Homo sapiens: one gene and its partners. The protein of the gene in region 1 purifies or fractionates together with the protein of each later gene. This does not show direct contact. Each region holds a gene or a part of one and is shown in the gene's direction. Other genes may lie near its edges.

The links.
Region 2: the proteins of AP3M2 (region 1) and AP3S1 purify together in Homo sapiens (affinity purification with mass spectrometry; 3 studies listed by BioGRID and IntAct, with this or other methods). This does not show direct contact.
Region 3: the proteins of AP3M2 (region 1) and AP3B1 purify together in Homo sapiens (affinity purification with mass spectrometry; 3 studies listed by BioGRID and IntAct, with this or other methods). This does not show direct contact.

The regions. Positions count from the first base shown.
Region 1 is NC_000008.11:42,148,668-42,156,065, forward strand, and holds the start of AP3M2 (AP-3 complex subunit mu-2), read left to right. Parts: upstream 1-4,395; 5' UTR 4,396-4,438; intron 4,439-5,810; exon of another isoform or gene 5,811-5,869; intron 5,870-5,948; 5' UTR 5,949-6,020; coding exon 6,021-6,293; intron 6,294-7,386; exon of another isoform or gene 7,387-7,398. UniProt on the Homo sapiens protein: Part of the AP-3 complex, an adaptor-related complex which is not clathrin-associated. The complex is associated with the Golgi region as well as more peripheral structures.
Region 2 is NC_000005.10:115,900,914-115,907,939, forward strand, and holds part of AP3S1 (AP-3 complex subunit sigma-1), read left to right. Parts: intron 1-1,971; coding exon 1,972-2,079; intron 2,080-5,907; coding exon of another isoform or gene 5,908-5,943; exon of another isoform or gene 5,944-5,948; intron 5,949-7,026. UniProt on the Homo sapiens protein: Part of the AP-3 complex, an adaptor-related complex which is not clathrin-associated. The complex is associated with the Golgi region as well as more peripheral structures.
Region 3 is NC_000005.10:78,221,694-78,228,719, reverse strand, and holds part of AP3B1 (AP-3 complex subunit beta-1), read left to right. Parts: intron 1-480; coding exon 481-576; intron 577-1,187; coding exon 1,188-1,348; intron 1,349-3,111; coding exon 3,112-3,178; intron 3,179-7,026. UniProt on the Homo sapiens protein: Subunit of non-clathrin- and clathrin-associated adaptor protein complex 3 (AP-3) that plays a role in protein sorting in the late-Golgi/trans-Golgi network (TGN) and/or endosomes.

The DNA.
Region 1 (7,398 bases):
ATTAATCCCTAATCCCTATCTTCTCTGGAAGGTGTCCACTTCTCTCTAATCCCTGCCTCATGGCTCCAGGCACTAGCTCTCTCCTAGGGATTACTGCAATTGTCTAAATAACCTCCCAGCCTCCAGGCTCAGCCTGTTACAGTCCATCCTGCACACATAGTCTTTCTGAAATGGAAATCTGAAAGTGTGCCACTCTCCTGCTTCACATTTCTTCAATGGGTTCCTGGGCTTAGAGGTAGGAAGTGTGGAATCTGAGCCATTCTGCTCAGATCTTCCAACGTCCTTGAATCACAGCTTTGCTGTTCGACCTTGGGCAGTTATTTAAGCTGTCTTTGCAGCTTCCTCATCTACGAAAAGGGGATCACAACGGTAATTCATTTTAGAGTAGTTGGGGGGATTAAATGATTTCAGATCCTCCTCTCTTATGTGAACTCTTAAATTTGGAGTGTCCCTGGAATCTGGTTCTCTTATCTCTCCACACTCCTTCCCTCGGTCATCTCAACAGGTCCTACTACTTTAAATATCCATATACTGAAAACACCCAAATTTATATCTCAAGCTCAGCCCACTCTCCTGAACCCTGGACTTATATGTCCAGCTGCCTTCTCAACATCTCCACTTGGATAGTTAATGGAGCTCACAGATATATTGATATACTTTGGATGTTTGTCCCCTCCAAATCTCATGTTGAAATGTGATCCCCAGTTTTGGAGGTGGGTCTAGCAGGTGTCATGGGGTTGGATCCCTCGTGAATGGCTTGGTGCCCTCCCCATGGTAATGAGTGAGTTCTCACTCTGTTGGTTTATGAGAGAGCTGGTTGTTTAAAGGAGCCTGGCACCTCCTCTCTCTCACTCCTGCTTTCACCATGCAACTGCCCGCTCCCCTTTCACCTTCTGCCATGAGTAAAAGCTTCCTGAGGCCTCACCAGAAGCTGAGCAGATGCTGGTGCCACGCTTGCATAGCCTACAGAACCATGAGCCAAATAAACCTCTTTTTTTTTAATATTATAAATTACCGAGTCTCAGGTATTCCTTTATAGCAAGCTTGTCCAGCCCAAGGCCCATAGGCTGCATGCGGCCCAGGATAGCTCTGAATGCAGCCCAACACAAACTCATAAACTCTCTTAAAACATTATCAGATTTGTGATTGCTTTTTTTTTTTTTTTGAGACGGAGTCTTGCCTTATTGCCCAGGCTGGAGTGCAGTGGCACAATCTTGGCTCACTGCAACTTCCACCTCCCAGGTTCAAGCAATTCTTTTGTCTCAGCCTTCCGAGTAGCTGGGATTACAGGTGTTCGCCACCACACCCGGCTAATTTTTGTATTTTTAGTAGAGACAGGGTTTCACCATGTTGGCCAGGCTGGTCTCGAACTCCTGACCTCAGGTGATCCACCTGCCTCAGCCTCCCAAAGTGCTGGAATTACAGGCATGAGCCACCGTGCTTGGCCTACCCATAGTCTTTCTAGTCTCAGCTGATGAAACTATCCTTCTCCATGCTGAAGCTCAGTGGCCCTCCCTTCTCTCTTGTTCTCACTCCCTGCATCCCATCCATCTGGAAATCCAGCTGGCTCCTCCTGGAGACTACACGCACAGTCCACCTCCTCCTCACCACCTCCATGGCTACAGCCTGGTCTGAGCTCCATCACCTCTCGCCTGGGTCACTGCAGCGGTCTCACTAGTCTTCTTGCACAGTCTTCTCAACCCAGATGACTGATAAATCAGATCCTATCACCCCTTTGTCCAAACCCTCCATGGGCTCTCTCTTTCACAACCATAATCTTTAAAAGAGCTTTCTAGCCCCTGTGTGATCAGGCCACCCACCCTGTAACCTTGTCTCCTCCTTTACCCTGCGCTCATTTCACTCCAGCCACACTGTCACCCTTCCTGCTCCAGAAACTCCCCAGGAGCATTCTGGCCTTACAGGCTTTGCAGTGCCTGTTCCCTTTGCTGGAATGCTCTCCCCCAAGATCTCCCTATAGTTAACTCTTCTGCCTTCTTCAAATCTTTGCACTAATGTCTCTTCTCAATGAGGCTTGTTCTCACTACTCTCTTAAAAACTGTAATTTGCCCTCCAATCCCATAACACTCCTGGTAGTTTTTTTTTATTGCACATGCCATCTTATAACCTACTATATACTTTACTTATGTATATTGATTATTATCTGTCTTTTCCCCACTAGAATATAAGCCTCACTAGGACAGGGTTTTTTTTTTTTTTTTTTTTTTTTTTTGAGACAGAGTCTCACTCTGTCGCCCAGGTTGGAGTGCAGTCGTGCGATCTTAGCTCACTGCAACCTCTGCCTCCTGGGTTCAAGCGATTCTCCCGTCTCAGCCTCCTGAGTAGCTGGGACCACAGGTACGTGCCATCACGCCTGGCTAATTTTTTAATTTTAGTAGAGACAGGGGTTCATCATGTTGGCCAGGCTGGTCTTGAACTCCTGACGTCAAGTGATCCGCCCACCTCAGCCTCCCAAAGTGTTGGGATTACAGGCGTAAGCCACCGCGCCCAGCTCCAAGAGATTTTTGTCTTTTGTTTACTGGTGTTATGTATCCAAGCACTGGAACAGTGCCTGGCGCATGGTAGGGCTCACTAAATATTTATGGAATGGTACTTACAAATTATAAAACACAGTGTATGGCACACAGTGTTTTATAAATATTAACATTTCCAAGGTTCACAACCACTAGGCTCCCTACTTACCTTTCCAGCCTGATCTCCCTGCGCTCTTCCTACCATTCCAGCTCAGCTATACTTAACTTGCTCATCTGCAGAGCCTTCCTTATGTACTTTTTTCTCTGTCCATCTATCCCTGCATTTGAGGGATCCTTTCTCATTTTCAGGTTTCAAGGTAGAGGGTCTTCCCTGACTCTAGGTCAGCCATCTCTACAGCACTCCTCCCACCCCCTATGCGTTCCTTATTCATCACACTGCATTGCAATCCCTTGCTTCTCATTTGTCTTTCCTGCTGGGCCCTGTAACCACAGGGACAATGCCTGTGACAGCAGTCATTGCAGCATCTCCAGCATCCAGCACAGGTCGATACGTGGGGGTTTTCGGCAAATGTTAATTCAGTGAATGAATGAGAAATTCTCACGGCAGCGACTGCATTTCTGCACCTTCGACACACATTATCACGTGTTATTGTATCTTGTGCTGTTCCTTAGGGCATAACAATTGCTAGCATTTTCTAACTCAATCCTCACAACTCTAGGAGGGAGGTACTATTCACGTTCTTATTTGAGAAGTGAGGAACTTGAAGTTTAGAGGAGTTACAGTTCTTTCTCACGGTCACTCAGGTTGTAAGTGTTGGAGCGGGTTCAAGCCAAGTCCTCTGGCACCAGCGTCCCTAAGCCCACCCAGAGTCATACCATTCTGCCATTTTGTTTCTGGCTTTTCTTCATAGTTCAAAGTCAGCCAACTACCTGCCCTTAGCAAGCGTGGAGAGAACCCCCCGCACCACCTCAGCAAAGGGCTTGTGTGTGGAGGAGCTGCCACCCACGCTCCATTTCACCAAAGTGACAACTAATGCTAGGGAGGGCGAACCTCTCATCGGCGAGGTCGCCACTGTCACCAGCGCCCACTGCTGGGTCCAAGGCTGGCGACGCCTCACCGCATCTGGGCTTGACTTCCTGCGTCACTGGGGCGACCCCTGGTCCTGACTTCCACTCCACGCCTTCGTGGATCAGGACGACTGGGACCACTCAAAAGCGTATCCAAGTCCTGAGGTCTCCAAAGCGGTGGAGAGACCCGCCCAGCCCCTCACTCCCCGGCTGGGAACTGAGATTGTGGAGGGTGGGCGCCCTGCCGCGGCCCAGTGGGGCTGGGGGCTTCCAGAGTCGGGGTCCAGGGCTCGGTGTCCGAGACTCCACCGCCAGCCGCGCCGACCTGACCCACGGCCGGGTACAACAGAGAAGGCGGCGCTTCCCAAAGGCACCGATGGAGTGCAGGGTAGCCGCCGCCCTCAGGATTTATCAACCGCGAGGCGCTGTCAGCAACTCGTGCCCGGAAGCCACCCCGCCCCGGCACACACATACTCCAGCGCCCCCTCCAGGCGCACTCCGCAAACACGCGAGCGCGGCGACCGCCCCAGCCCTTTGTGACTGGATGAGTGGGGCCGAGCAGCACGCACTGTCTTCGACCTCCAATCAGGACTCGGGGTCTCGGAGCTGTACCAATCGGAGATGACCGTGGCCTCAACAGGGCCAATCGGGGGACTCGAGCCCGACAACAGGGCAAGCCGCCAACAGCGATCAATCAGAGGGGAGGAGCGGCTCCCAGATACCCAATCAGCGGCCTTCAGGCGCAGATCGTGGGCGGAGCGGTAGCCAGGCCGCGGGCCGGCCAATCAGCGGGCGAGCGGCTGCCTCAGCGCGCGCGGCGGGCGGGGCGGGGCCTGTCCGCGCCTAGGAGCAGTGGGCGCTGAGAGCAGCAAGGCCAGGTGAGGAGTAGGGACGACCCCGAGCCTGGAGAGGGGGCAGGAGTGGGGGCGCGCGAGGGTCGGGGCGGGGTCTCAGGATGCAGCCGGGCGGCCTCTCAGGGCTGCGGACGCGGCGGGGAGAGGTGAGGGGCCGGGTTCAGAGTTCGGGGAGGGCGTCCTTCCCGGCGCCGCGGCTGCGGGCGGAGGGGACACTGTTGCCATGGCAGCGCACGTGCGCTCGCTGGCGCGGCCCGGCACCCCTGCGCTCTTCACCCCGGAACGCGCGTGCCCCTTCAGCCAGGCCCCTGCCCGCCTGCGCCCCGCGGCCTCCGTCGCCGCCGGCTCTGGGCCGGGGCCTGCGCAGGGACCGCCTGCCTAGGCCGCTGCCTCTCCCTCGCACCCCGGGCTGCCTGGCTGTCTCTCCCTCCTGCTGTCTCCTCCAGGCGGCGCTGGGCACCGCAGGCCTCTGCGTTTTGACCACCCGCGCCGGTTCGCGGAATGGCCACATCCTGGCGACTGGCACCAGAGAGATGCAACCGTCTGAGGGCCTTGGGGTGTCTGTCCCCCAGGGAAATTTTTTTTTTTTTTTGGAGGTGGAGGGGGCGGGGTTCTCCCTCTGTTGCCCGGGCTGATCTCGAACTCGTGAGCTCCAGCGGTCTGCCCGCGGAGGCCTCCCTAAGTACTGGGATCACAGGCGGGAGCCCCAAGGGATCTTTTTAAATGTCTTACTGCATTAACAAGTGCCTAAGGAGTGCTCAGAGAATAGCTCTGATTGGATGAATAAAGACCCCCAAGGGCAGCTTTCCATTCCTCCCACCAATTCTGGTGGGCAGAAATAGAAAGCAAACCACATATGTAATTGTACATGTTCTGGTAACCACTTTAAAATAATAAAACAGGTTAAATTAATTTTAATATATTTGATTTAACCCAGGATATCCAAAATGTTATTACAACATATAATCAATATTAAATTATTGGTAAGATATTTGAAATTTTTTTTTTCATGCAAAGCCTTTCAGATTTGTCGTGTGTCTTACACTTAACAGCACACCTCAGTCCGCACCAGCCACCTTTCAAGTGCTCGCTGGTCCCATAGTGGCTATCGTATTAAGCTGCGCATTTCTTGTGTATGTGTGAGCTGTTGCCAAAACATGACATCAAATTCAGTGTTCTTGGAAGCCCTCTTCAAAGAACACTGATTGTGTTGCAGTCAGGCAACGCAAAACATGAGGCACGGCCCTTTTCTTCAAGGAGTTTGCGGTTCGGTTGAGAAAATAGACACCCACAGATAAGTAGTATTTTAAATGGATGCAATTTGGGCGATAGTAAAGATAACTGGGAGTATATGATTGACAGTCAGATGACTGATCATTATCGTTTCGAATTCAAGGGAGGGCTATCTTCAGGCTCATGCAGGAGGGGAAGATTGGGCCTGGTCTTGAAAGATGGGTAAGTCTTGGACTGTTGGGAAAAGATGGGGAGGGCCTTTTGGTTGAATGGAACTGAATATCGCTGCTTTTGTTTTTAGAGTTGAAAACTTACAGAGTCCTGAGGCTTTCAGACTGAAAAAGGCTTTCTTCTGTCACTGACAATCGCCACCATGATCCATAGTCTTTTCTTGATCAACTCCTCTGGAGACATTTTCCTGGAGAAACATTGGAAAAGTGTGGTCAGCCGTTCTGTTTGTGATTACTTTTTTGAGGCGCAAGAGAGAGCTACTGAGGCAGAAAATGTGCCTCCGGTTATCCCTACCCCTCACCACTATCTCTTAAGTGTTTACCGCCACAAGATCTTTTTTGTGGCCGTGATCCAGACGGAGGTCCCCCCTCTGTTTGTCATTGAGTTTCTTCACCGAGTGGTGGACACATTTCAGGTTCGTGAATGTGGGAAAGTTCATATATGTAAACCGTAAAGTGTCTTTGTAGTCCTGTTTCCATTGTGTAAAGCCTCCATTAAGAAACTTAAAAAAAAAAATCAAAACTCTGGTATTACTCACTTCCTCTCCCATCTGATAAGATTCTGGTTTCTATTTATTGAATTGGCTGCATGCAAAATGACAAATGGAATACTTTTGAACCTCTTGCGTGGGAAAGTCATCCTATTTGCGATGACTATATATAGCCTTTCTAGCTCTGATTCTACTTTTTGCTCACAAATTAGAGTTTAGATTGTTTTTGCCTGGTGGTCTTGATCCTAACCATTGTTATCTGCATTGCTTTGAGTTGCATCAGAAAGTGATTGTATAAAGTTTTAGAAAAGAAAAAGTAGAAAAAGCTAAGGAATGCTTAATTTAACTCTCCCAGTCAGGGGTAACTCATGAACCTGTACTAGTTCTCAGGTTTGAGGTGGTTCTTTATAGTGAGAGAGTGGTACTGATGAGCTCTGCTTGCAAAGATGAGATTGGGAAATCTCATGTGCCTGTAAGAATTTAAGTGAGCCATTTTATGAGGCAGTTTTCATTTTAAGCTTTTTCTTCAGGAATAGATGTTAAGAACTTAGGGGGTGATGTCCAAGGGAGGTCAGTGATACCAGGACACGACACCATTTGCAGCACAGGAGTTCAGACAGCACCGGCCCTGGATTCACACAGAGGAACTTTCTCCCAAAAGAACCAATCAACTTCTAACTGTTGTGGTTATTTGCATAACTCAAATGAGAAGCGAGGGCCTTTTGGTTTAACTTCTGTGTCATATGAGGTCTGGAATGAGTCATATGAACACTGGAATTGTGGAATTGGAGAAGAGAATGAGGACCCACACACTATGATAAAAGTTAAAAAGCAAGTCAAAGAGTTCCTTCTCTTGTACTCATATCTGCACCACGTCTAGAACAACTTCCCTTCCCAAGAGAATTAAAATACATTTTTTGTTTTTCCCTGCAATACTCTGTAGTACTACTGTTCTGGAATTTCAGTTCTCATGCAACATACCGGCCCCTTTGCACAGTGAAAACGTAAGTATAAGTCCCAGTATGTGGAA
Region 2 (7,026 bases), on another chromosome or scaffold:
TTCTCGTTTTCCATATTTGCAGCTTGCTTCTCTGACAGAGATCAGTGAGAGATCTCATTATAAAAATATGTGTCTAATAATTAATGTTGATTCACTGTTTTAAATTTTTATATTTTTGTTTGTTTGCTCTTACCAACACAGTTTCATTTATCACTGTCATATGTATATCAGGCACCAGTCTCTTTTATGGTTTTCCTAACTTAATTTCTCATTCTTTCCTTCCTCTAACTTTCAATTCTTTATTTTCTTGCAGAACTGCGAAAATTAATGTATATAATATGTTCTCATTTGTGTAAATTAGATATGCATATACACACGTATAACAAGTATGTGCACAGCAAGTTTTCTAGGATACCTAAGATATAGCTAGCTGAGTAGCTTTGGATAAAGGGACCTAAAAACGGATGCAGAGTGTGGTAGAGACTATTGTTGTTCATACATAAGTTTCTGTATGAACTTTTAGTCATTTGCCTATATTCTTTTTTTTTTTTTTTTTTTTTAAGTTACGGTAGTTTTCAAAACACTGTCATGTCTGGTTTGGTTTGGTTGGCTAGGAAGATTAATTTATATAAATTTGTCTTCAGAATTTGTGCATGAGGTGTCCATGCTTCCAAAATGAAAAATAGTAAATAATGATGACTTTTTTTTTTTTTTTAATTGAGGCAGGGTCTCACTCTGTTGCCCATGCTAGAGTGCAGTAGTGTGATTTCAGCTCACTGCACCCTCCACTTCCCGGGCTCAGGCAGTCCTCCTGGGTCAGCCTCCCGAGTAGCTGGAAGTACAGACGTGAGGCACTATGCCTGGCTAATTGTCTGCATTTTTTGTAAAGGCAGGGTTTTGCCATATTGCCAGTGATCTGTCCACCTTGTCCTCCCAAAGTGTTGGGATTACAGGTGTGAGCCACCATACCCAGCCTCCAGGGATATTTTTTAAATTATGAATAAATTTGCGTGAAATCTTACAAAGAAATTTAAATTGAGTAATACATATTTAACTCCTAAAAAGAGTTTGTTGAAAAAAAAATTACCGTATAATACCTAGTGGTTCTATGCTAAGCACTTACATAAATTATTTATTTAATTGTTATGGTAATCCTATGAGGTGCCTATATTATTTCTGTCTCTATTTCGTAAATAAGGTAACAGACTCAGAGAGCTGAAGTAACTGCTCAAGGGCTACAAGTAATAAGTGGTAGAGTCTGTATTCATACTTATCTAATTTTGGAGTCTCCATTTCTAACCTTACCACATTATTTTAAAAAAATTATAGCAGAATAGATTCTTCTGTGAAATGTAATTCAGTTCTGAATTGTTGATTTTTTGATCCAATAATACCTTATGAAAAGACAGAAGTTATATTTTTACTCCCCAATGGAAGACATCATTTTTAGTCATTGTAAGATGTATTTATTAGAAGAAATCTGAATATTACATGTGTAGAGGATTTGGGGGTAAAAACACTATTAAAGTACCCACAATTTAAAAAATTCTACCTTTTTCCAATCTAGAGCCTGTTAGAAGTACTGTACTACATTGCTTCATTAAGTACCATGAGTGTAAAATAATAACCTAATTATTGTTGGCTAAGAATCTGGCATAAAAGGCTCTTATAAATCATATTTTAGTATTAAACTTCACATAATAATAATAATAATGGTAGTTAATATTTACTAGTCATTTACTTTGTTTTGAGTACTGCATTGGATTACCTTGCTTATTCCTTTCAACAGTCCTATGAAGGTAGTACTATTGTTTTTGTTTTATAGCCCATTAAGCTCAGACTTAAGGAGGTTATATAACTGCCTAGGGCTTCACAGTAGTGATGAAAGTGGATTATGAGCCCTTACTCCAAGTTGTTTTTACCACTCATACTTTTAACATAGACAAAGTGGTATTTGAAACAAAAAGTGAATCATGAAACTTCTTTTTAGTGAATTTTCTTTATGGGTATATATTCTTTTATTCCCTTTAGGTTCACAATATTCTTGCAGAAATGGTGATGGGGGGAATGGTATTGGAGACAAATATGAATGAGATTGTTACACAAATTGATGCACAAAATAAGCTGGAAAAATCTGAGGTAAGAATGGAAAATGCTGTAGTTAAGAAGGTTCTAAGCATGATGACAGATTACGCATGATTTGTAGTTTTCACTGTTTGTCCTTCAGTATCACCCTTTAGGTTCAGCCGTTATGCTTATTCAGTTTTTAAAAAATGGAATATACACGTAGTATGCTAAAGGTTCTGTGACTGTTCTCTACCCAACAGCTTTGTGTATTCTTCTTTTAGCCACAGTCATAGCTGCCTTGGGTAATAAGCACAATTCCAAATCTTATTGCCTAAAAGAATTATCTGAATAATGGAATCTAATATTTGCTTTGTAAAACTTCAGTCGGTAATTATCAAGGAAATCTTAGAACTAATATTTTAAAGATATATAAATTTTGTGTTACAAAACTACTTCTGGAAAGGGAAAGGACAGGAAATGGAATTCTTACAGGGAAGTAAGTAATGTTTCAAGTTATTAATAAATGCAAAATAAATATTTTGAATGTTTGAGTTCACATTCAAAAAAGAAATTCAATACCTTAATCTTTTAATTCTAAATCTTTCCCTAAGATTTCACTGACAAGTTAGTTAAGTCACATATTTTAGACATTAGTACATATATATCCATGGTCTTTATTGCATTCTATAAGATCGGTTTGTTATACTTAGCTAACTTTCTGCTGTTAGATTCAACCTTAGATGGGATAAATGAGGAACAGCCAGCACTTTAGCATTGTATAAAACCCTACTTCAGAATTGTAGTGACTCTTCCCTCAAGCACTAGTCTGAATATCAGTAGCAGGTGCTGTAGCTGAGCCACCTGGGTTCACATTATTTTGGTTGTTTATTACCCTAGCAGAGGTTTAGAAAGATCAGTAGTTTTATCATTTGAGTTCAGGAGTTCGAGACTAGCCTGGCCAACATGGTGAAACCCCATCTCTACTAAAAAAATAAAAATAAAAAATAAATAAATTAGCTGGGCACGTAGAGCGCACCTGTAATCCCAGCTACTCGGGAGGCTGAGGCACAAGAATCACTTGAACCCCGGAGGTGGAGGTTGCAGTGAGCCGAGATCACATCACTGCACTCCTGGGCAACAGAGTAAAACTTCATCTCAAAAAAAAAAAGAAAGATCAATAATTTTGATATCTCATTCACCACCCAACTTGTTTGAGGATACTCTTACATTTGGTATTTGCAGTCATAACTCAGATTGGAAAAAACAGACTTTATTTTTATAATTATTAGTGTTAAGCTCAGATGTTTCGTTGATTTAAAGTAAATATTACTTTGAAAGCATCAAGGTTTTAAAAATACACTGGCATTAATTTACAACAGGTGAGTTCTGAAAAATTTTACCTTGTTGGCATTTTAAAGGATCAGTTTAACTCAATTCAATTCTGTGTCCATTTTAATTGAAGAAAACACAGGGTGAAGAATAAATCTCAAATCTAGAAACAGTTGAAGCTTATAAAACATTTTCCAGTGTTCTCTTTTAAATTTAAAATAGTCTTGCATTTTTCTTTATCTCAATTTCCCATTCCTGTTGGTTTCCCAAAGGAGAAGTTTATAGTGGTGATTTAGAGCTAAGATTATCTTAACTAACTATATGTTTTGTTTGTCCTATAGCCAATTTTTAAAATATTGGCTTTTGAAAGTGGAAAACATAAATTAGGTTAATAGAGAAAATTTTGTTTTAGGACAAGGAAAAAGACTCATAATTTAATTTAGTATAACTGACTTGCAATATATTATTTAGTAAAGAAAAGATTATTATAAACCCTGAGCTATTGCTTTTAAAGTCTTAAAAGAACTTAAAATGTGTGTCATTTGTTAAACATTGCTTTGCAAAACTGTATGGTTATAGATTTTAAATGCCAAGGGACAAACAGTGATGCAATCCTTTAATAACTGGTATAAATGAATGAGTATCTAGTAATTTGTGAATTCTGCATAATCATCTGTAAAAAATATTGACCAGTTGTCTGGAATTTTCACCTTTCTAGGTAGTTAACTCCTTTTCATTGGTGGTGGTCCTTCTTTTTCTTCTGCTACTTAAGACATTTATGCCTGGTGTTCCATTATTGGAATGCTAAGCTTGTGGGAGTTATTTATATCCTACTGCTCAAGGTCATCCCCAAGGTCTGATTTTTCACAAAAAAAAGTTTGCAACCTCCGGCATAAATGGGTTAATGTGCTATATTGACAAAAGTTATGAAGGACCTATAATTATTGCATAATGGGTATTTGCTTTTTGATTGTTGAATAAAACTTCGTTAATGAGGCAATTTTTCTTATCTATAAAGAGCAGTAAAATGCGTAATTTACATTTCAATGGAAATAGTTATAAGAATACTATAACTTAAAATCTATTCACAGAAATAATGCTATTTAAAATAGTTTAGAATACTGGTGATTACTTCTATTATTCATTCCCTGATCATCTCGCATCATACATAATTGTTATCTGGTACCAAATTAGTTTCTCTTCTTTTGTCTTTTACAAGAAAGTATGTTTTAAGTCTGATTGGGGATAAACTACAAAATTATATATTTTCTATACATGTAACGTCTGCTAATATTTTAGTTATGAAATCGGATTTCAAGTCAAAGTGAGGCCATTTAGCCCTGATCATCTTTTTAAAACAGCACTGAAAATTATGATGACTAATTTTTCGTAGCTTTTGTATATTTTAAGTATGTTTGAAAGGCTTCTAGCTTTATTCCAGCTAGAATGTCAAAAGCTTTCATATGTTTCATGTCCATGTTACTTCAATTGGTTAAATTTACCAGAGATATTACTCTGCAGAATAATCCAAAATTACTTGAAACAAAGTATAAACTTTTCCTAATCTTCTTACTAAATTTCAGTTAAAATGTATTATATAAGGACAAACTTAATGACTTGTTTGGCTGGGCGCAGTGGCTCACGCCTGTAATCCCAGCACTTTGGGATCACTCAGGTGATCTGCTCACCTGAGGTCAGGAGTTTGAGACCAGCCTGGCAAATATGGTGAAATCCCGTCTCTACTAAAAATACAAAAAAATTATCCAGGCATGGTGGCACTTGCCTGTAATCCTAGTTGCTCTGGAGCCTGACGCGCAAGAATCGCCCGATTCCGGGAGGCGGAGGTTGCAGTGAGCTGATATTGCACCACTGCACTCCAGCCTGCGTGACAGAGTAAGACTCCGTCTCAAAAACAAACACACAAAAAAAGACTTGTTTAAAATCGAGAATGTCATGATTGATGAAAAGAACTGGTTATCAATATTTTTAAAAATTATTTAAGTAATATCTTAGGAACATCATTTATATTTAAAAATCAGTCTGGGTATAATTGAGACACAGCTTTTTAAACATAACATGCATTTATCTAGGGGCCTTTGTCAGAAATCAGAGCTTTTATTATGTTGGTCTAAAGTTAGTACATTTCTGGTAATGGAAAAAAGTGAACCAGTTTAATTCCCAATACCTAGACAGGTGGAAGCAAAGCTCTGCCAGATCCTGAAAGAGAGAAGCAAAGATATACTCTGAATGTATTTCCATCTATTCTATTTTGATAGAAAAATGGTTTACTATAACATTGGAATATTGGGAGAGGAGGGTTTAAGCTGGGAGGTTGATGGGATTCGGGGGAAGTATAAGAGGCACTCAGGAACCTGCCTAAGAATAAAAGGACTCCCTGGGGGTGGAGGTAGAGGGGTGGGGTTGGGGAGATCTGTTAGCTTTTATGTATTTCATGTTATTCTTAAGATGGATAAATGGGTCTGAATTTAGTCACTACTTTTTGAAAGTCAGTCCTCTTTTTTTTCCGAACATCCTGATCTTTCTAGCTCTTTCCATTCTTCTCTCTTACAGACCTTTATCTTTCAGTCTCCCAGACAGGACAGGTAGACAAGGTATTGCTGACTTTGAGAAATATGTACTATAACAAAGGGAAAGCAAAATGATGTCAAAGGCAATTAATTATTTAGGCCAGACTCAAAAATTCTTTGTGTTAATAAACCCATATAGTCCCTGTAGCCTATTTTCCATTCTAGTTTCTCCTTGTAGTTTCTTCATCTTTTATTGGACTTAGTGTATTTTACTAGTATATCATTGATGTCATGTTTGTTCTGTTTTGTCTGCCTGCATTGTAAAAGGAAAGTTTAAATTTTTTTTAAACACTTGTCATCTAACTGACAAATTGCATTTGCAGAAGTGACAATTTACTTTGTATATAAAAACGTAAAATTTATTTTGAGCATCATATAGCAGAACCAATCTTAATTTAACTCTCACAGATTTGTTTTTTTTCCATCTCTAAATTAGGATTCTAACATAAAATTGCCTGCTGGGTTTTGGAAGCTGTGAATTTAAAAACCAAAAGCTGAACCTTCAGAGTTTTGCATACAAAATGGGAAGCAGTGAAGGCTTAGAATAGTGACTGTTAAATAGTACTTTTTCCCCTCAAATGGTTTTCAGTTCCAAAGTCTTAACAGAATTGCTTTTACAGTTTTGACCTGCAGGTGCATATTAACAGTGGCCAACAGAAAATAAGATCAGAAATCTTATAAAACTTGACTGTATTTCAAACTAGAATGCTCGAAAAATGGAATTACCAAATTACCAAATCACCAAAATACAATGGGTTTTCATTGTAGCAAACCTTCTGACATCCAAACATGTCATAATCAGAATCAATAAAAATATATTAATGTTTTAGTATTGAATTAAAAACCCTGAATATTTTTGCAAAGCGTATTGGCAAATATTGGAAATATTTTTAATAGACCTCTAGTTTTACAAAACTAATTTTTCTTCTGATATTTCCTGTACGTTTTTTCACACCATAAATTAACTGTGTGAATTACTTTTTTAAAAGTTCCATGTACGTGGTGATGAGCAACTATTTTGTGTGAAACCATGTAAGCAAAAGAAATGTTTATAAGGTCTCTGATTGAAAATTTCAAAATAAAAGTAATTTATTGAGTCCTA
Region 3 (7,026 bases), on another chromosome or scaffold:
GCCCAAATTCTTTCTCTTATTATTTTTTAAAGAGGTAGGGTCTCTCTGTGTTGCCCAGGATAGCCTCTAACTCCTGGGCTCAAGTGATCCTCCTGCCTCAGCCTCCTGTGTAGCTGGGACTACAAGCATGTACGCCATGCCTGGCTTCTTTCTTTTATTTTTATCCCTCATTTTGAAAATATTTTTACAATTTAGTTAATATTCTTATATGAGATCTGCTCAGGGATTTTTTATTCCCTTCAAGAGGAAGGGACACTTTGATAGGCTATTGCTATTGTGAACTGGACTATTAAAATGCTTACTTTAAAAGCTTTTCCTGTTGTACTTATTATCCCACAAAATATTATTTTTATTTTACAATCTAACATGTGACCAGATTCAGTTATTTACTTGAGAAGAATTGAGCATGGATTTTGGTATAGCAAATACTGAGTTTTAAATTTTCACTCTGGTTATGAATAAATGATTTTTTTTTAACAGATCAAGAAGTTGGTATATGTTTACCTGGTTCGATATGCTGAAGAACAGCAGGATCTTGCACTCCTGTCCATAAGCACTTTTCAGCGAGCTCTGAAGGTAAATAATGGAGTGAGTAGGCAAATAGCTACAAGGTTTCTGCAGAGTTGAAAGTGTGTCAGTTAAAGAAGTGGAGCGATAATCCACTAAATAGCACAGTAGTGTCTTGAAAGAGTTAAAAGCCTCCTATAGTGCCTACTCAGTACACTTAGAAAATAATTTATACAACCAACTGAAACCTTGCTGTATATGTTACAGCTTCTGTATGTTTGTTTATATTCAATATAATTATTTTCATGCTTCAAAGAGCTGTTTATCATTATACTAGTTGTTGAAAGTACGCAAAAGGGGTTATAAGACATTTTTAAACATGAAATTGATGACCTGCAGCATTTTATTATTATGAAAGTATAAAAACCCAGCATATTTAGTAATAAATGACCAACTAGAATTATAACTATTACTTTTCTTTAAAACATTATTAAAGAAGTAAACATTTATGTCTGTCTTTTTTTCCCATTCCTATATACTAATTGTTCATTTTAAATTAAGTAGCTTTCTTTTGCTATTGTCATATTACACCCTTTAAGCACCTATTAACTGTGTCTGAAAGATATGTTTAAAATATTGTAAAGTTGAAATTTTGGTGAATATTTTTGCACTATTTTTAGGACCCAAACCAACTAATTCGTGCAAGCGCTTTGAGAGTTCTGTCAAGTATTAGAGTGCCAATTATTGTACCTATCATGATGCTTGCTATTAAGGAAGCTTCTGCTGACTTATCACCATATGTTAGGAAGAATGCAGCCCATGCAATACAAAAATTATACAGGTAGGTGCATTGTTAACAATATACCAAAGATCTCTGATGTTACATGGAATGTTATAGACCACAGAGGCTTGTTTTATTCGCTCTTTTAGGTAGGCTGCTCTTACACTAAGTAAATCCAGTGACTGTATGATGGTATTTCCCCCTGCTGCAAATGTTCCTTACACATCTTTAATTTCGTTTTGGCTATAGAGACCCTATGCAGGTTTTTATTTGTGAGGCTGTTAGAGCCTGTGATAATTTATAGATTTTATAACTTAAGAATAATCAGAATTTGAATTCTCATTTATATAGTCTATCTCATGTACACATATGCTTGTATTATTAGAAAATTGAGATTTTTTTTTCCTGTTTAGGGTAGAATCTTAAGTGTCTGATCCTCTCAACTCACTTATATGTGTTTTCCTTTCTTCCATCTTTGTTCCTGCTGCTCCCTTCGTTGTCTAATTCTTTTCCAGAGCTATTTTATTAAGTAATTTTAAAAAGTGTAGTGATTTGAAATATAGTGTGCTATACCATATCTGTGTGATATTTTAGAAATGTTATGCAATATTATACAATGCCCTGATCTCTGTGGAAAATTTACTGTCCAAATAGAATTGTCTACAACAATTTGGTATTATTTTCAGCTATCATTTATTCCTCAAGCTTTTTGAGACTCTCTTCTGTTTCTGGTGTTGTATTCACAGTATTGTGCTATGTGTATTTAGATGTATGAAAACAGTAGAGGATGTGGCACTTAATTATGAATAGCATATCATGTATTTGAGGAAGAAGATCAAAGACATACCAAATAATTAAAGGCAATCTATAATGAATAAGATATTAGCACTTGATATATATGTATATACAAAGGTACACTAGCAATGTCTTTGATAGGACAGGGACCAGAGATGATCATATTTTGTTACCGGAAAGTAAAGATGTAATGAGATGGGATTGGTAGTGAAATACTGCTTTGAGAAGGAAGACTTAAGCTGAAATTTGAAAGAATTAAAAAGTTTGTCCAGATAATTATAATGTTTAGTAATAAATGTGTATGTTTGTAGAAAGTGAAACCTCATATTCCTATGTTAACTGCCAGACAAGGTTTTATCATGCTTCTCACTCACCTTTTCTCCTTAGAAACTTATGGGATAAGATCCATGCTCACTCTAACGGCTTAAAAGTCCTTCTATCATTGGGCACCAGTATATTCCAGCCTCAATGCTTGCCTCTCCTTGCCTTGAGCTTATAGTCTGTTAGTATTCTATCTCAAATGTTTTAAGCTTATTACTACCTCTTATTTTTCCTAGTTTTAGTTGGCAGATTTTATAATGCATGTCTCTATCAGTGAACTAGTATGATATAAAATTCTTATTTGGAAATTCTCCATATTTGTTTTTGGGAAGTATGTATGCATAGTAAAATAATGACTGCTATCTAGTTATTTTTTTCCTCCCAGTTGAAAAGAGTTTGTGGTTTATCTACTTACAGTCGCTTTCTTGAAGTTTTCCAACTCTTTTAGAAGTGAACTTGTTCTTTCAGTACTATCTTAACTAAACCATTGATATCTGGTTTAGTTAATATGAACAATATTAGAGGGAAAGATGAGGACACATTCATGAGAAAAACCATCCCATTTTATTTGTTTTTCTTTATTTCTAACTTATAATTCTTGCTCTCCTTTCCCTCTTTAAAAATTTCTCAACATCCTTGAATTGGTGAGCATCATGTAAAGCTAGAATTAAAGGGAAAAATTAATATGTTATTTTTGTATTTTTTAGCCTTGATCCAGAGCAGAAGGAAATGTTAATTGAAGTAATTGAAAAACTTCTGAAAGATAAAAGCACAGTAAGTAATGTCTTTTTACGTCTTTGACATAAAAATGTACTTTATTTACATAGTATCATTTACCATTATATATTTTATATAGTTGTATTTATTGATTTCAAAATGGTATAAATATTAATGGCACACAGGACTATTTTTAAAGAACAAAAATTTTCATGTAATGAGAAAGACTGCATTTGGAGTTTTAGATCGTTATGTGTTTCTTCATCAGAATCTGAAAAAAGGCAAGTTGAGAAAAAAATCTTTAACCTGTGGCTAAGTGGTTAACATGGTAAGATCAAGGAATAGAGGTGACCTATGGGGGATGTGAGTTACTAGTGTACTAGTATCTTAGATGGGGCTTTTGTACCCACTTTATATTTCTCAAAACTACTGAGGAAAAGGATTCCAGCTCATCTTAGGATGCTATCATCAGGGAGTATGTACTATCTATGCATGGCAGCTATCTAATACAGTAGGCAGTAGCCCTGTGTAGCTGTAACTATTGGTTTATGGCTTAGCATTTGATCTATCCTGGATAATGTTCAATAAACATTTGATTAGAATGTGTATTCTGCTGTTGTTGAGTGGAGTGTTCTATAGATATCTGTTTTTTAGTGTTGTTCAAATCTTCTACTTTGCTGATCTTATGCCTACTTGTTCTATTCATTATTGAAAACAGGGTATTGAAGTCTCTTTAATTCTGTTAGTGTTTGCTTCATCTATTTAGGAGATTGGATGTTTGGTGCATGTATGTTTATAATTTTTTTAATCTTCCTTTTGTCATTGTAAAATGTTCCTCTTTATCTCTAGTAACATTTTTTTGTTTTAATGTCTGTTTTGCCTGTTATAAATACTACTATTCTAGCTTTTTTATGGTTGCTGTTTCCATTATATATCTTTTTCCATCCTTTTACTTTCAGCCTGTTTATATTTTTGCATCTATTGTATGTCTCCATAGACAGCATATAGTTGGCTCTTGTCTTTTTATCCAGTTTGCCAATGTGTGCCTTTAATTGGAATGTTTAATCCATTCACACTTATTGTTGTTATTAATATAGTTGGATTTTAAGCTGTCATTTTACTTGCTTTTATATGTTTCATGCCTTTTTTGTTCCTTATTTCTCCTTTATTGCTTTTTCTTAGATTAAGTGAATATGTTCTAGTGAACATTTTAATTCTTTTCATGGTTTTTTTACTATATATTTTTGAAAATATTGTCTTATACATGGAGATTATACTTGTAGTTTCATTCCTAGACCATTTAGTAAATTTCTGTTAGTCTGTAGTGTACCAGAAATCATTATTGCATTTCTTCTATGCATAGTTGGTATAACGTAGGAGGTAACTAAATATAGATTGATTATAAATGAAGATAGAGAAAAGAAATTTGATTCCTTTTTGTCTTCTGTATGACAGGCATGCTATCTGCCAGATATGAAGTCAATATTATTAATATTATGGTTAACTTGATTTTAATAATTTAAAAAAATACTTAGTGCTTTTCTATTATAAGTGCAAGAGATTGGCTAAGTACCATGGAGAGTAGTAAGATCTACAAGAAGCAGATCTGTCATTTTAATGAGTTTTACCATCATTTCTGCTACATTATAGACTAAGAGAAATTCTTTGGATGGCCTGGGAATGAACTCTCTCTGTATAATATGTGCATGTCTTCCCAGACAGGATACAGCATATCATAGGTAAAAACAATAGCGTTTGAATCAGATAGAACTGGCTTAATGTCTGAGCGTCTGCCACATAGTATATGTACCAATTCTTTATGAGTTTTAGGCTCCAGATTTGTAGGGTTTATAATATCTAATTTATAAATTTGCTGTTTGTGTCGAGAGAAAGAACTATTGTATATAAAACCCTCAGCACAGTGCCTAACACCACATGGGATGTGATTAAAAATTCCAAATAAGAAATAAGTACTCAAAAAGATGTAAAGATACAATATCTGTGTAAAATTGGAATGTCTGTTTCCAAAATACACCAGAAAGTAAAAAATATTGAATACTTGTTCATCACAGGTATTTAATATTTGTTGAATGACTGTTGAATTAATTTGTTACATTCTTGGTGATAGTAATTAAGTGTGTAGTATCGTTTTTAATGTCTCCCTCACCCCCCTGCAGTGGTTTCATGCTCAGTGTTCATAGGTAGATTCTTTGGGGGCTTTGGTGGCCTACCCTTTGTGAGGCACTCATTTTTCCTAAAGTGTTATATACTATATGTTTATTTTTTTTAATTAAGAATACATATTTCTTTTTCTGTCTATAGTAAAAAACAAAGTTTTTACTGACACCTGTAATTCTGGTGGTATAGCACAGAGTTCCTTCCAGCCTCCTTCCTTTTTATATTTGAAACTGCCTATTCAACATTAAGAAATGTGGCTCTGGCCACGCACCATTGTTCATGCCTGTAATCCTAGCACTTTGGGAGGCCAAGGTGGATGGATTGCTTGAGTCCAGGAGTTCGAGACCATCCTGGGCAACATGGTGAAACCTTGTCTCTACAAAAAAAAAAAAAGAAACAAACAAACAAACAAAAAAACAAGAAACAGGGCTCCTATTTCCACAATCTGTTTACATTTTTGCTGAGTCTCAGAATGCAGAGAAACTATTGCTTCAGAATTGCTAGCACTGTACCTCTGTGGGGTATACAGTAGCATGGGGCCTAATAATTAGAGTTAAATATTTAATTAGAGTTAAATATTAGTTTAGAGTTGTTTTTGTCTTTAATCTTTTTTTTAATGTATGGTAAATCAAAATTGCTTCAACTATTTATATCTTTGAACTCGTTGTGTTGGTATGTAAGAAAGCTATTGATTTTTTTTGAGTGATAAATTTTATATTCTGCTTTTTTACTGAATTCTTCTATTGTTTGAGTTAATTTTCTCATTCATCCTCCTTGGGTTTTTTTTTGCATGACAAAGAGTCTTTACTTTTAAATGATTATCAGTACACCAAGTAGTAACATGTAACAAGTTCTTGAATTCTGTCCTCTTTGATTAAGTAACTAAAACTGGCCCAAACAATTATACTAGTGTTCATTGTTCTAACCACTAGCAGGAATGGACTACCAGATATTGCAGAAAAAGGCCAAGACTTCACCCCTCTTCTGCCTAAACTGCTTCCAGATGGTTCTCTTCTCCTGGGTCTCCTCTACTTTAATGCTGCAGCTGCCTTGGGATCGCAGGGCAGCAGCCTCCTTGGCCTTGAACTCTTTCTCCCTCTGCAGGCAATATTGTTCAATTTCACCTTGAACTGCTGCTTTGGCCTGCTTCTCCCTCCGGTTCTTTCACTGCAGGTCTCAGACACCCTTTTCAGCAACCTGCAGCAGCTACTGGATCCCCTGAGACTGACTGGCCATGACAGCACCAACTCTGAGGCAGAAGCAAGCAGCCTAAATCTCTCTCTCTTTTTTTTTTTAGAGAATGAATCATATCTGCAAATAGAGATGTTTTACTTCCTCTTTTTCAGTTCCTAGAACTCTAATTTCTCTTGCCTAATTATATTGTTTAGTGCCATCACTACAGTTGTGTTCAATAGTAGTGGAGATGGTGGGCATTCTTGCCTTGTTTCAGTCTAAAGGAAATGCTTACATTGTGTTTGCATTAAGAAAGATGCTGGCCCTGAAGATTTTATCTTTGAAATATAGTACTTTTGCAAGGTACTTCAGGATTACTTGATATGGGTCAATTGTTTTGCCTTGGTACTCAGTGAGTCCTTTCAAAATGTAGATTCAGAATTTTTATTATCTCTGGCAAAGTGTTTTTTTTTAAGATTATAATTTTAAATATTAATTCTGTTATTTTTTTTCTTTTTCAGGGATTCCTATTTTATGCACATTGGATCTTCTTT